2 separate regions of the Homo sapiens genome follow, and region 2 is linked to region 1. The links come from fine-mapping of genetic effects on gene expression. Tissue or cell type: whole blood. Region 1 holds a variant in brackets; the other region holds the start of a gene. All regions are shown on one strand. Distances are between the middles of the regions.

Evidence for each region. PIP is the estimated chance that this variant, and not a neighbour inherited with it, causes the effect.
Region 2: GALNT8 starts here. The variant in region 1 is fine-mapped to the expression of GALNT8 in whole blood (TOPMed, PIP above 0.99).

The regions. Positions count from the first base shown.
Region 1 is chr12:4,659,981-4,668,244 of GRCh38, forward strand. NDUFA9 (NADH:ubiquinone oxidoreductase subunit A9) reads left to right here. Exons shown (of 11, transcript NM_005002.5): 6 at 2,553-2,655. Among named protein-coding and RNA genes, the nearest start is that of NDUFA9, 15 kb to the left of the region's middle. The variant G/GC (reference allele first, on the strand shown) is at 3,383.
Region 2 is chr12:4,716,534-4,724,533 of GRCh38, forward strand. It overlaps GALNT8 (polypeptide N-acetylgalactosaminyltransferase 8), which reads left to right and starts at 3,867. Exons shown (of 11, transcript NM_017417.2): 1 at 3,867-4,355. The coding sequence starts at 4,145. GAU1 (GALNT8 antisense upstream 1) reads right to left here and starts at 3,569. Exons shown (of 4, transcript NR_110112.1): 1 at 3,332-3,569. RefSeq lists enhancers at 2,988-3,983, 3,984-4,979, 4,980-5,975.

The DNA.
Region 1 (8,264 bases):
GTGCCTGCCTCTGCCCAAACATTCATAAAATCATCAGAATTTCATGACTGGAAGGGAATGGGAGGTGTCAATGGTGAGGAAGAGAGAAGAGTCAAAGATGTCCAGCCCTCTGGCTGAAGCCACTGGGTAGATGATAGTACTGTTGAATAAGATGGGAAATGCTTGGGAGGGACTAGGCTGTAGGGCAGTGAGTCTTAGCCTTAGTTGCACATTAAAACCACTGAGGGAGCTTTTAAAAATTCTGATGCCTAGGCTGCGCTCCAGACCAATTAAAACAATTTCTGGGGTTGCAACTTCAGCACCAGTATTTTTTAACTCTGTCTAGGTAATTCTGAGTGCAGCAAAGATTGAGGAGCACTATTTTACTTGAGAGAATGGAAGATGATTGAGTTTTGGACTCACGTTTCAGGTGCATTTCAGATGTGTGTCAATCTTCCAAGTAACTGGTATATAGGGTTTCTGATCCTGGAGGTCAGAAGAGAGGTCTGGGTTGGAGACAGAAATGTGGGAGTTACCAGCATTTGTTGTTAATTTAAGTGATGAGAGAGGATAAGATGGCTGAAGATTGAGAAGGTAGTTTCAGATTGGGCCCAGAACATACCAATGGTTAGTAATCTGGTAGAGAAGGAGGCACCTGCAGAAACCCAAACCAATCAAACAGAAAGACTAAGCAGGACATGATAAGGCGGAAGGGAAACCAGGAGAGTACAGTGCTAGGGAAGCCATGGCCAGACAGTCTCACAGGAGGAAGTGAATACTTATGAATGCCATTGAGAAGTCAAGCAAATGTTAACTGTAAAGTCTCCTTGGATCTACTGACATGGAGGTCATTGGTGATCTTATCAAGAATAGATTGAGTGCAGTGGTTGGAGCAGAATCCAGAATGCGGGTGCGTGAAGAGTGAGTTGGAACTGAGGAAGTGGGAATGGTAAGGGTAGGTACATTTTCAGGTAGCTTGACTGGCAAGAGGAAGATGAAAGACTGAGAGGATAGAAGCTGGAGGGGGATGTGGAGTTGGTATGTTTTTTTTTAAGGTAGAGGATCTACATTGTTTACATGCTGGTAGGGAGATGCTGGTAAAAAGAGTGAGGCTGAGGATGTGGAAGAGAGAGTAAATTGGACAGGTTCCTGAAAAAGTGAAAGGACATGAGCTCTAAAGCATTGAAAGTGGCACTGTTCCTCCCATCAGGTAAGAGAGGAGGAGAAAATTGTGCTTTATATACCGGGGTTTGTAGATTTAGTGGTGAGAACTTGAGGTGGTTTTTCCTCTACTGTCTTACATTTTCTCTTTTATTAGAAGGCAGAGTCATTTACTGGAAGGAAGAGAAAAGAAAGGGATGTCTGAAATTTGAATACAGTAGAAAATGTTTCAAATTGTCTCATGGGAAAGTAAGTTAATTAGAGGAAAACACGGTTTTTGGGAAATGTTGAGGGCCTGGTTAAAATTGGAGGCATGAATTTATAGTGGTACCAATTCATGGTTTTTATTGATTTATTTTCCTGCCAGCTGCTCAAGACAGTGGGAGTGCATGGCCCAAGGGAGGCCAATGGAGTTCTTCTAGGATTAGAATTTTGCCTGGTGGCTAGAGTAAAGGACAAAGGGACAAGGTAGTTTACAATATTGGCAAGAGAGTGATGAGAAGATGGTCTATGGAACCTAATCTGGAATTCAGAGGGAAGGACAGGAACAGTCGGAAGAGTTGATACAGGGGAAGCAGAATCAGTGCACTAGAGTTCTTGAGAAGGTTGAGAAACAGGTATCCCAGGAGCAGATGAACAAAGAACAAGCAGGCTGGAAATTGTAGGAAATGGACATCCAAGAGCAGGATGTCTTCATTTAATACCTCAGAAGAAGAGCAATTCCAGATGTTGATACAGTAGGTGGTGTAACCAAGTTAAGAGTGGTAGAGGTGGAAGGAAGAGGAGGTCGTTGGAGTTGAGCAGCTCAAGAACCTGAGAAGTCCAAGCCCACTTGGACATCATGTCACCTCCAGTGGTGGTGGAAGTAGAAAGGAAGACTGAATTAGGTGCTGATATCTTCATCGAACAAGAAGACTTGCCTAGGAGGCTAGTAGATGATAACAAGTAAGGATGGTACAGCAATTGAGATTAGGAGGATTAGTGACTCTATCCCCAACCTCCTTTGGATATGTAGGTACTGGTGACACTTCCATTATTGCAGCCTGCTGCCACCATACTGTCCTTTTTCTAACAGGCTGCTAGATGGTTGACACAAACCAGAGAATCTGTAAATAGAAGGAAAAATGGAGGCTGAAGAAATTCTACTTTGATTTTTCTCCTTCTTCAATGTAAGCTTCCCTTAAAATAAAAAAATTGGAAGAGACCCAACCCAATCTGTAAGGTGCAGGACATTTTTGTGGATTATATTTTTTAAAAGTTCTGTGTAACTGAGTTTTATGAATTACATGATTACCTTTATCTGGAGGAAAATATCGCCTTTGAAATACAAGTCATGTCTTAATAGTGGAAAGAATGGATGCTTTATTCACTTGTCTCTAAACTCAAAACAGGTTTGTTTGGTTATTGTTTAGGCTGTTGGAGAGAAAGTAGTGAGAGATGCATTTCCGGAAGCCATTATCGTAAAGCCGTCGGACATCTTTGGAAGAGAGGATAGATTCCTTAATTCTTTTGCAAGTACGTATTCTTTCTTAATGGTAGAAGAGAGGGATACTGATTAACCAAGTTGAAGCTGCTCAAGCTAACAGTTTTCTCTGATTGACAGACTAAGGATATATTTTTTCTTTCCCAGTTGCCTTTTCCTCCCCTAAGTTTATATTTTCATAGTCAATGTAGTCTTTGTTATATTCCATATCAAAAGAAGCAACTTAGATTAATGGAAAGAGCATGAACTTGGGAGTCAGAGACTTGAGTTTAAGTCTTGGCCCAGCTAACTCTGTGACCTTGGCAAATATTCGAATATCACATGGAATAGTTTCTCTATCCTAAAATCCCCTGTGTTATATGTATTGATTCTTACCCTCCTACCCACCCCTAACCCCAGACAACCACTGATCTTTTTATTGTCTCTATAGTTTTGCCTTTTCCAGGATATTACATATATGGTTAGAATCATTGCAGTATGTAGCCTTTTTAGGTGGACTTCTTTCACTTAGCAATATGCATTTAAGGTTCTTTCATTTCTTTTCATAGCTTGATAGCTCATTTCTTTATATAGCTAAATAGTATTCCATTGTGTATATTCCATTGTATTGGATATTGGTTTATCCAATTTAGATGTTTCTATCTTGTTTTTCCCCCTGTTGCTTGTGTCCACCTAACATCTGTAATAATTTCTACTTAAAAAAAATTGTGGCAAAATATACATAGTATAAAATTTCCCATCTGCTATGGGCTAAATTGC[G/GC]CCCCCTCATAATTCGTATGTTGAAGCCTTAACACCATTGTGAATTTATTTGGAGTTAGGACTTTTGGAGGAAATTGAGGTTAAATGAGGCCATAAGGGTGAGGTCGTAATTCAGTAGGATTGGTGACCTTATAAGAAGAGGCAAAAAGAGAGATCTCTCTCTCCCTGTGTGCACATACTGAGGAAAGGCCATATGTGAGGACACAGCAAGAAATCTGCTGTCTACAAGCCAGGAAGAGAGCCCTTATCAGGAACCAAACTGGCTGGCACTTTGATCTTGAATTTGCCAGCCTCCAGAACTGTGAGAAAATACATTTTTATTGTACAAGCCACCCAGTCTATGGTATTTTGTTATGGTAGCCTGAGCAGACCAAAATAGATTTTGGTACCAAGAAGTGGGGTGCTGCTGTAGCAAATACCTAAAAATGTGAACGTGCCTTTGGAACTATGTAAAGGTAGAGGCTAGAAGAGTTTTGAGGTACCTGGTAGAAATATGGACGTTAAGGGTGATTTTTGTAAGGTCTCAGATGGAAATGAGTAAGATGTCATTGGAAACTGGAGGAAAGGTGATCCATATAATAAAATGGCAAAGAAATTGGCTGATCTGTGTGTGTTCTAGTGGAAGGTAGAACTTGTGAGTGATGAAATTGTTTATTCAGCTGAGAAGATTTCTAAGTACAAAGTATTGAAGAAATGCCTTGGTTCCTCCCGACTGCTTACAACAGAATAGAAAAAGAGAGAAAGAGGAAATGAAGAAGGACTTGTTAAGCAAAAAGGAACCGGAACCTGAAGATTTGGAAAATTCTCAGCTTATCCATATTGCAAAAAATGAGAAAGCTTGTTTTGAAGAGAACACTAAGAGTGTGGCTGAACAACCATTTGATGAAGAGATTGTGGATGCGACTCACCAACTAACAAGCTATCTTGGCAGAAGCCAGGAATAGAGATGAGATTACATCAGCAAAGTCACCACCAGTTTGAACTAGAAGGGGCAGAATGAAAGAAGCCTGTCTGACTTCTGATATCCTACAGGACCAGACCACAGAGCTATTTGGCTGTGAATTTGAGCTATTCTTCAAGAAAAGGGAAGAATGACCCCAAAAGGGGTTCAGAGATGTTTAGAACTATCTCTTTGGTTTCAAAGGATGGGGCCATTGCCTCAGTTTAAACACCACATGGCCTTTGTCAGAGGCCTTGGAGGTGGGACCACCCAGAGTCTTGGAGGTACAGCTGCCTGATCCTTGGGGCTACAGCCCCCTGGAACCTTTGAGGTGTTGACCCTCTGCCCAGGAGAGCTATTGGGGTGGGGCTGCTGCCCCAGTAGGTCCTAGAAGTTAGAACTACCGCTTCAGTGGGTCCTGAAGGTGAGACCACCACCTCTGTGAATCTAGAAGGCAATGCATCTAGGCAAAGAAGATTATTGATTTTTAGTAGCCACCCTAATAGGTGGTGTTTCATTGTGTGTGTGTTTTTATTAGATTCTAAAATCTAATAGAATTTACCTTGCTAAGTTTTGGACTTACTTGGGAGTTGTTACCCTTTCTTTCTTACGTCTTCCTTTTAGAATAGGAATGTCTATCTTATGCCTGTCTCACGGCTGTATTTTGGAAGCACATAACTTGTCTGGTTTCACATGTTCATAGTTAGGAATTTTGCCTCAGGATGACCCACACCTTGAGTCTTACCTATATCTGATTTAGATAATATTTGGATGCGACTTTGGAGTTTAGAGTCTTGAGACTAAGACAAGATTAAGACCCTTTTAACTATTTGTAAGAGTACAGTTCAGTAGTATTAAGATATTTACATTGTTGTACAACCAATCCCCAGAACTTTTTCATCTTGTAAAACTGAAATTCTGTACCCCTTAAACAACTCTCTGTTCCCTCCTTCCCCCCAGCCCCTGGCAACTACCATTCTGCTTTTGGTTTCTATGAATTTGACCACCTCATATAAGTGGAATCATACAGTATTTGTCTTTTCGTAGCTGGCTTATTTGACTTAGCATAATATGCTCAAGGTGCATTCCTGTTGTACCACGTGATGTGATTTCCTTCCTACTGAAGGCTGAATAATATTCTGTGATATGTCTATACCACATTTTGTTTAATAAGCCATCCATCAATGGATACTTGGATTTCTTCCCACTTTTGGCTATTGTGAATAATGCTGCAATGACCATGGATGTACGAAATATCCCTGATTTCAGTTATTTGGTGTATGTACTGAGAAGTGGAATTCTGTAGCATATGGTATATCTATTTTTACTTTTTCGACAAGCCACCATAGTGTATTCCACAGTGGCTGCACCATTTTACATTGCCACCAACAGTGCACAAGGTTTCCACTTTCTCCAGATCTTTGTCAATATTTGTTATTTTCTGTTTTTTTTTTTTTTTATAATAGCCATCCTAATAGTTCTAAGGTGGTATTTCATTGTGTGTGGTTTTTTTGTTTTTGTTTTTGAGATTGGGTCTTGCTCTGTCACCTAGGCAGTGATACAATCACAGCTCACTGCAGCCTTGAACTCCTGGGCTCAGGGGATCCTCTTGCCTCAGTTTCCTACATAGGTGGGACTAGAGGTGTGTACCACCACACCTGGCTTAAAAAATATATATATTTTTGTAGAGACAGGTCTTGCTCTCTTGCCCGGGCTGGACTCAAACTCCTGGCCTCAAGCAGTCTTTTTGCCCCAGCCTCCCAAAGTTCTAGGATTATAGGCATGGGCCACCACGCCTGGCAACAATGTGGTTTTGATTTATGTTTTCCTAATGATTAGTGATGTTGAGCATCTTTTCATGTGCTTTTTGGCTACTTTATTATTTGGAGAAATGTCTGTTCATGTCCTTGGCTAATTTTTAAAATTGGGTTGTTTATTTTTTGTTATTGAGTTGTAGGAGTTTTTTTATTTATTCAGAACATTAAATACTTATCAGATATGTGATTTGTAAAATTTTCTCTCATTTTTTAGTTTGTCTCTTCACTCTGTTAATTGTGTTCTTTGATGCACAGAAGTTTTAATTTTGATGTAGTCAGGCTTATCTATTTTTACTTTTGTTGCCTGTGCTTTTAGTATTGTATCTAAGGAGTCGTTGCCAAGTCCAATGCCATGAAGCTTTCTCCTTTTGTTTTTGTCTAAGAGTTTTAGAGTTTTAGCTCTTAGGTTTAGGTCTTTGATCCATTTTGACTTAGTTTTTGTATATGGTATGAGGTAAGGGTCCAATTTTATTCTTTTGCATGTGGTTATCCAGTATGTTGAAAAGATTATCTTTCCCCATTGAATGGTCTTGGTGCTTTTGTCAGAAATCATTTGACCATATATGCAAGAGTTATTTTTCTCTATTCCATTGCTCTGTATGTTTTTCTTTACGCCACTGTTTTGATCACTACACTGTTTTGATTACTGTGCCTTTGTAGTAAGTTTTGAAATCAGAAAGTGTGTGAGACTTCCAAAAATTTGTTCTTTTTCAAGATTGTTTTGGCTATTTAAAGGAATCCCTTTAAATGTCATATGAATTTTAGGATGGAGTTTTCTATATTTTTGCAAAAATAAAAAGCCATTGGGATTTTGATAGGGATTGCATTAAATCTGAGATTGCTTTGGGTAGAATTGACATATGTCTTAGTCCATTTTGGGGTACAACAAACGTTGAGTAATTTATAAAGAAGAGAAATTTATTTCCAACAGTTCTGGAGGCTGGGAATCTCAAGATCCAGGTGCTGTCATCTGGTGAGGGCCTTCTTGCTGTGTGCTCACATGGTGGAAGGTGGAAGGGTGAAAGGGACAAATGCTATGTCCCCACATGGCAGAAGAGGAGAAGAGCAAGCTAGCTGAATGCTTCATGAAGCCTCCTTTATGAGGGCCTTAATCCTATTCATGAGGGAGCACCCTCATGGCCTAATTATCTCTTAGTTCCTATCACATTGGCAACATCTGAACTTTGGAGGGAACATATTTAAACCATAGCAACATCCTAACAATATTAAGTCTTCCATTCCATGAACTTGGGATGCCTTTCCATTTAATTGTGCCTTTAATTTCTTTCAGCAATGTTTTGTGGTTTTCAGCATATGTGTCTTTTGCCACTTTGATAAAGTTTATTTTTAAGTATTTTATTCTTTATTGTACTATTGTGAATAATTTCTACTCTTTTTTTTTTTTTTTTTGAGACAGAGTCGCACTCTGACACCCAGGCTGGAGTGCGGTGGCGTGATCTCGGCTCACTGCAACCTCTGCCTCCCAGGTTCAAGCGATTCTCTGGCCTCAGCCTCCCAAGTAGCTGGGACTACAGGTGTGTGCCACCACGCCCAGCTAATTTTTGTATTTTTAGTAGAGATGGGGTTTCACCACATTGGCCAGGCTGGTCTCAAACTCCTGACCTTGTGATCCGCCCATCTTGGCCTCCCAAAGTGCTGGGATTACAGGCATGAGCCACTGTGCCCGGCCTAATTTCTACTCTTAAATGGTTTAAAAAAAAAAGAAAAACAAACAAACAAAACAAAAAAAACTTTTTTAACCTAACATTTAAACTACTTGGGATTTGTTTTAGTTTATGGTGAGAACTAAGACATTATCTCACCTTTTTTTCAAATAGCAGAATAATTGTGCCAGCACCATATATCAACTAATATTTCCATCAGGCCCTTTTTCTGGGTTATCTGTGCTGTATCACTCATCTGTTGATACAGCAGCAGAACTCATCTAGATATTAACTAGATAGACAGCTCATCTGCCATATCAACAGATGAGTATCATAAGGAGGAAGAGTTCCATGTTTCTCCTTAGAATGGGTGCAGCTAGAGTCCAGTCTTGGTCGTAGCGATGCATTTAGCATTGCAGAGCAGACTAGTTGTCTAGACATTTGACCTCTTTTCTTTGCTC
Region 2 (8,000 bases), 56 kb after region 1:
ACAGAGTTTTGATTTTCTTGCCCAGGTTGGAGTGCAGTGGCGCGATCTCAGCTCATTGCAACCTCCACCTCCTGGGTTCAAGTGATTCCCCTGCTTCAGCCTCCCATAGCTGGGATTACAGGTGTGCACCACCACGGCCAGCTAATTTTTTGTAATTTTAGTAGAGATGGGGTTTCACCATGTTGGTCAGGCTGTGGCCCCACAGTCTCGAACTCCTGACTTTAGGTGATCCACCTGCCTCAGCCTCCCAAAGTGTTGGGATCACAGGCCTGAGCCACCGTGCCCAGCCAGCCCTTATTTCTTTACATTCTTATTTAGCCCCACATTTTGTCTTTTCCTTCTAAGGCTCCGATGACATGAATATTAGATCTGTTGTTGTAATCTCACCGGCCTTTGAGGTTTAATTTTTTTTTAGTCTACTTTCTCTCTGTTTTTCAGATTGAGCATTTTCTATTATTCCATCTTCAAGTTCACTGATTCTTTTCTCTGTCCTTATTCTACAGTTGAGGCCTACCCAGTGATTTTTAAATTTTGTTTATTGTATTTTTCACTTATAAAATTTCCATTTGTTTCTTTTTTATGTCTTCAATTTCTTTCCTGAGATTTCTATATCTTTGCTAAAACATCTGATTTCCTTGCTGTTTCTTCATTCGTTTCAAGCATGTTCATAATCAGTCGTTCAAGCAATGTTACTATGGCTGCTTTTAAATCCTTGTCAGACAATTCCAGCATCTGTGTCATCTTGGTGTTTGTGTCTGCTTTAATTTTTTTTTTTTTTTGAGACACAGTCTCACTCTGTCACCCAGGCTGGAGTGCAATGGCACGATCATGGCTCGCTGCAGCTTCAACCTCCTGGGCTCAGGTGATCCTCCCACCTTAGCATCCTGGGTAGTTTGGGCCACAGGCATGTGCCACCATGCCTGGCTGATTTTTTTAAATTTTTTGTAGAGATGGGGTTTTACCGTGTTGCTCAGGCTGGTCTTGAACTCCTGGGCTCAAGTGATCTGCCTGCCTCAGCCTCCCAAAGTGCTGGGATTACAGGTGTGAGCCACCATGCCATGCCAATTTAAAAAAAAGTTTATTTTTTAGTAGAAACAGGGTCTCAGTATGTTGCCCAAGCTGCTCTCAAACTCCTGGGAATCAAGCCATCCTCCTCCTGCCTCAGCCTCCCAAAGTGCTGTGATTGCAGGCATGAGCCACCATGCCCGGCTGGTGTTGCTGTCTGTTGATAGGCTCTTCCAAGTTGAGATTTTCCTGGTTGTTGATATGACAAGTGATTTTCTATTGCATCTTGGCCATTCTGAATATAACTTTTTGAGACTCTGGATCCTATGTAAATCTGTTTTAGCAGGCCTTTCATACACTGTTCTGGTGGGGAGAGGGAGATTTCATCTCATCGCTGCCAGGTGGGAGAGGAAGCCCAGGTTCCATGCTTGGCCTCCACTGACACCTGGTGGGGAGGGCTGCCTCATTACTGATGGGTGAGGGAGGGAGTTCAGGTTCCCCACTAGCCCTCTGCTGACACCACACTGGCTGAAAAGGGGAGGGCCACTGTTCCTTTACTGATATCATGTGGGGACAATGACAAAAATGCCAGCTCCCCAAGAGACCTTCACTGACACACCCTGGAGGGGAAGGTGGGGGATGCAGGGGCAAACCCTCACAGCTGGGGTGAGGTTGGAAGTCTAGGCTCCCCACGAGGCCTCTGTGGATGTGGTGGGCATGGCACTGCAAGGTTTTCAGTGGCATTTGGCTGGAGTAGGGCAGTTGTTGTCTAAACATCTTCTGTCTTGCTAGGCTTCCCATTTCCTGTTTCTTTGGTTAGAGAAAGCAGCTTTTTCTTGGGGCTTCTATTGTCTCTGCCCATTGCATTTCCAAGTTGTTGACTGCTCCAGCATCCAGCAACTTGGAATCTATTTCCTACAATAGCTAGGATATCTGGAGATCTCTAGTCAGCCTGCCCTGTTCTCTCTACCTTTCAGAGTCTTCTTAGGTTTGTTTTACATATCATGTGTACTTTTTACTTGCCTTGATGGGAAGGAATAGAGAAGATAAATGTAGGTATTTCTTCTTGTCCCAGAAGCAGAAGGGTTATGCTTTTTTGTTTGTTTGTTTTTTGTAGTTGTTGTTGTTGTTGTTTGAGATGGAGTTTTGTTCTTGTTGCCCAGGCTGGAGTGCAGTGGCGCGATCTCGACTCACTGCAACCTCCGCCTCCTGGGTTCAAGCGATTTTCCTGCCTCTGCCTCCCAAGTCGCTCGGATTACAGGTGCCTGCCACCATGCCCAGCTAATTTTGTTATTTTTAGTAGAGATGGCGTTTCACCATGTTGGCCAGGCTGGTCTTGAACTCCTGACCTCAGGTGATCCACCTGCCTCGGCCTCCCAAAGTGCTGGGATTACAGGCGTGAGCCACTGCGCCTGGCTGGATCATGCGTTTCTTATGTTTTGAGTCTAATTTGCAAGTGGGAGGCTGGGAGACATTTTCTATCCCTGCGAAACAGAAGAAGTGATTCCTTTTCATTTTGTTCATTTTCATCCTGTTTTTCCTAAAGCCACATTACTTTCCTTTAATCCACATGTCCGCCTCAGCACATGTCACCATGTGCTGTGTTTGGGACGTAGTAAATAGTCCAAAGAGCCAGGCCGGGGTGGAAGCTGTGATTTTGACGGGATTGACAGTAGACTGAGAACTTTGAACTTTTAGCCTTGGGGAACAATTTTATGTGTTTATTCTACAATGATGATCACTGGTGATTTGTCCAAAACATATTATAAGTGTGAGGTGTGGAGGCAAAGGAGTTACTGGAAGCTGGGGCAGGGCAGAAGCCCAGTGTATGAAGTTGTGCAGAGGACAAGCAAAGGACAGAGACCAGTGAATCGGAGTCATCCCCTGAGGCTCAACCCCGGGCACCGCCTCCAGCTCTTCTCCACCTGCTTCTAGGCAGTGAAGTCCTAGGAACTAGCAAGAAAGTCTGTCCTTAAGTTTGTGGGACAAGCATTTGTTGCACACCTACTATGTCCAAAACCCTGTAGAGTTAGGTAAAAAGACATCTTAGATCCCAGCTCTCCAAAAAAGCAAGGATCTAAGTGTACAGAGACTTCTTGCTTCGTGATTTCTTCTTCATCCTATTTATCCCCTTCTTATACCCACAGGACCAGACCTCACATGCCCTATCAGAGTCTCCCAGGTGGTTTTTCCAGGGAGAGAGAACATTAAACATCAAACAAACATATATAGAGAAAAGCCTCTCACCCAGGCAGCCTGAGCTAGCTGCAGGAGCAAGCATTCTTCTGACTTCTGAGACAGTACAAGGTGTGTCCAGGTGACTTACCTGTCACTGGGCAGCTGCCATGCGCACTCCTCACACCTGACGCTGCTCAGGGAGAAGCCAGGCAGCTATAATAGTGTTCTTGGCCGGAGAACATCTGGCCTAGCAGGCAGGGTGTCATCTATGAAGCTGGGTGGAGAGAAAGCTGTTGGGGAAACCAGCCCCACACCACCCAGCGGATACCCCGAGTCCGGCGGAGACAAAGGAGTTAGAAAGAGACAGAACAAGCGTTTAAAAGGCAGGTCCAGGGGACCAGAGCGTTGGAGGCTTGCTCACGGCCCAGAGCTCTGGGCTCCACCCAATTTATTGGTTTACAAGCTCTTTGTTCTTAGGGCAGATGGGAAGGGGAGGAAGGGATGAGGAAAAGGATTAATCAGTGAGTCATTCGATAAGATGTGTAACAGTGGCGGTTTCTGTGAATTTCCTTGAGCAAAGGCGTGTGTCTAAACTACTTAAGATCTTTAATGACTGAAATGGGTGGGAGTGGGTTTCAGGAGGAGCCAAGATGTTTGATTATACTCCTCTGCTTCAAGGGAGTGTTATCTCCCTGAGCAACCTGTGGAAAGCCGCTGAGCAACCTGTGGAAAGCCGCTGAGCGGTTATCCTCTCGGGGCATAAAGACAAAGAAGGCAATAAGGAGACTTTGCTCCTCAGAGGCCACCCGTGGCTTCCCATGGGTGTCTCACACAGGGGAGACCAACTCAACTGGCACCTAGAACTCTCTTTCCCACAAAAGCTAGGCTGGTTCTGATTCTTAACCTGCTCCAGCAGTGACACACTCAGTCCCACAGGGAGTGGACGACCCCCAGGAAGAAGATGATGTTTTGGAGGAAACTCCCCAAAGCCCTCTTCATTGGGCTGACTCTGGCCATTGCTGTCAATCTCCTTCTGGTATTTTCTAGCAAGGGGACTTTACAAAACCTGTTTACGGGTGGTCTCCACAGGGAGCTTCCTTTACATCTGAATAAACGCTACGGGGCAGTGATAAAGAGACTCTCCCACTTGGAGGTGGAATTGCAGGATCTGAGTAAGTTTACAATGCTAACCTGGAAGGTGTGTGTGTGGGTGTGTGTGTTTGGGGCACTTAGGAAAAAGGGATATGGAAGGAAAAATGGGTGAGAGGTCACATTTTCATCTCAGTCGCTCATTGAAGCATCTGACACTGAATTCTGTGCCTTCAAATGGGAGATGGGTATTGAGAATGAAGTGAGTAGAAGTGGAAATTAGAGCAAGCAGTATGGGGGAGGTGAGCATGTGTGTGTGTATGCGTGTGTGGGCTTGTGCACATGCATTATCATTATATCTACATATGTGCAGGCAACGAGAAGAATAAGAATCCCAAGGGCCATAGACCTGTCCTTAGGCCTATTGAAGGGGTGGGTTGCACCTCCACACCTGTGGGTGTTTCTCGTTAGGTGGAACGAGAGACTTTGGAAGAGAAAAAGACACAGAAACAAAGTATGTAGAGAGAAATAAGGGGGCCCAGGGGACCAGCGTTCAGCATACGGAGGATCCCGCCAGCCTCTGAGTTCCCTTAGTATTTATTGATCATTCTTGGGTGTTTCTCGGAGAGGGGGATGTGTCAGGGTCATAGGATAATAGTGGAGAGAAGGTCAGCAGATAAACACGTGAACAAAGGTCTCTGCATCATAGACAAGGTAAAGAATTAAGTGCTGTGCTTTAGATATGCATACACATAAACATCTCAATGCCTTAAACAGCAGTATTGCTGCCCGCATGTCCCACCTCCAGCCCTAAGGCGGTTTTCTCCTATCTCAGTAGATGGAATATACAATCGGGTTTTACACCGAGACATTCCATTGCCCAGGGACGGGCAGGAGACAGATGCCTTCCTCTTGTCTCAACTGCAGAAAGGCGTTCCTTCCTCTTTTACTAATCCTCCTCAGCACAGACCCTTTACGGGTGTCGGGCTGGGGGACAGTCAGGTCTTTCCCTTCCCACGAGGCCATATTTCAGATGGTCACATGGGGAGAAACCTTGGACAATACCTGGCTTTCCTAGGCAGAGGTCCCTGTGGCCTTCCGCAGTGTTTTGTGTCCCTGGGTACTTGAGATTAGGGAGTGGTGATGACTCTTAACGAGCATGCTGCCTTCAAGCATCTGTTTAACAAAGCACATCTTGCATAGCCCTTAATCCATTTAACCCTGAGTCGACACAGCACATGTTTCAGGGAGCACGGGGTTGGGGGTACGGTTACAGATTAACAGCATCTCAAGGCAGAAGAATTTTTCTTAGTACAGAACAAAATGGAGTCTCCTATGTCTAGTTCTTTCTACACAGACACAGTAACAATCTGATCTCTCTTTCCTTTCCCCACGCCTATGTGTGGTAGGGGCTGTTGAAGAGAGGTGGCAATCTCTGGGGCAAGGGCCTCGCTTCCATTTTGCGGTGTGCTCCTTTCATGAACTAATGAGGGCTTTGTTAGAGGACCTAAGATCGAATCCTGATGTGCCATTGTGGTTGTGTGACTTTGAGCAAGTGCTTCTCTCTCTCAGCCTCAGGTTCCTGGTCTGTAAATGGAGATGATGATAACAATAGTGATAGTTATCAACCTGACCTAATAGGGTTGTGAAGTAGATGCAGAAGGTGATCTATAAACTGCTCTGTGCCAAATTTTAACCTCCTCATTTAAACTTAAGGGTAAGATTTCAACACATTCTGGGGTTTGTTTGTGATTCCGGCTCACCATGGAAGTCTAATGCCTCTGAATTTTATGTGCCTGTGCATCCAACTTCAGCAAGGGAAGCAGCAATTTCCCCCTGCTCCCAGGTAACAGGGATCAAATGCTGGAACCCCATAGGGAGGTGTTTTATGTGTGGGCAGGGATGTGACTGCCCAGGTGTGTGCACATGGGGCTGGAGTTGGGGAAAGTGTCTTTTAAAATGAGAACTGAGCATTGTCAGGGTTCAGGGTGAGGCTGGGAGATGGGTGGAAGGAAAGGCAGGAAGAGAAAAAGGAAGGGAGAGAAGAAATCAGGGAAAGAGCGAGGAGAGTGAGAAGGGAGATGAGAGAGGAGAAAAGAGCTGGGACAGGAAAGGAGCAGAGAAGTGAGGGAGTCCAGGGAGAGAGAGTGAAAGAGTTTGTATGGAGACAAGAAGAAAAGAAGGGAAAGTGTGATGGGAGAGAAGGAGAGAATAAAAGGAGAGAGGAGGAGTCCTAAGGCACCCATAGCACCTTCCACGTCCTCCTTCATAAGACTCATCATATTTTATTATGGTACAGTTTTATGGAAAGCAAGTTTCATAAGTGCTGTTTCCATGAACGTCTCATTCACTACTCATTTCTATTCATACATCGAAATTCCATAGATGAATAAATGAGTGGGTGTGTCTAGGAAAGAGAGAGAAAAAGACAGGCAGACAGGGATGAAGGGAAGAGTGATACGGGGCAAGAGAGTGGATGAAACAGAGGGAAGATCATCAGCTCCACAAGCCCTGGCTTACCTGGGTGGGTCGGACATTGCCCATGCAAATATGCTTGGTGCAGCTTCACCAGGAGGATGCCTGTGTACCTAGGGTGGTGACCCCAGCACCACCCTCACTATTTGGCAGAGCACCCAGACCACACCAGGACTGTCTCACCCATCCCCAAGGCTCATCACACTGGCTCAGCCTCCTCAAGCCGTAAAATGGCAGGAGTTCTACCCAAAGCCCTGCTATTCTTTCCATCAGCTAGGACACAATGTGCCATGAGGAGCCAGCCAGAGCCATCTGGTTTACTCCTCTTTCCTTTTTTGCAAAGATCTTTCTTGTTATTCTTGGTGCTCCCACATTTTATTCGCTCTGAAATGTTGTGATGTCAGAGACTCACTACCACCTGAGTTGAACCTCAAAAAGTCTTCTGGGCCCTGTTTCTAGATCACCAATGCTTTTTTTTTTTTTTTTTTTCCACAGAGCTTCCTATAACTAAAAGCCTGTTTAATTACCCTTCATCCTGTTTGCTCATTGCCTCCAGGATTCCAGGAAGATTTAAAAAAATCAGAAGTCGGCCGGGCGCGGTGGCTCACGCCTGTAATCCTAGCACTTTGGAAGGCCGAGGCGGGTGGATCACGAGGTCAGGAGATCGAGACCATCCTGGCTAACACGGTGAAACCCCGTCTCTAGAAAAATACAAAAAATTAGCTGGGCGTGGTGGCGGGCGCCTGTAGTCCCAGCTACTCGGGAAGCTGAGGCAGGAGAATGGCGTGAATCTGGGAGGTGGAGGTTGCAGTGAGCTGAGATCGTGCCACTGCACTCCAGCCCGGGTGACAGAGCGAGACTCCGTCTCAAAAAAAAAAAAAAAAAAAAAAAAAAATCAGAAGTCAATAAGGATACTTAGTTGAATCATGTAAGCTACCAAGAGCAAATGCAAACAATAATAATTATATCCCTATTGAGGGAGGGATCAATGACTCTAAGCCAGTTTTCTGGAACCTCCCTCAGGGTTCATAAAAGCCCCACTAGGGGAATGTCAATGGATGTGTCTGTTTTGGGGCTTGGAAAGTTTCAGTATAAGTTATGGGGATAACCTAGTGACACTGTATTCATACTACCGGATTGTGCATTTCCTCAAATTGACTTTAGGATGGCCAGGTCCAAACCAGCTCCCACTGATAGCCATGAGTGAAAGAGAAAATCAGATATCCCCCCAAGGAAGAACGCAGAGGAGCTCA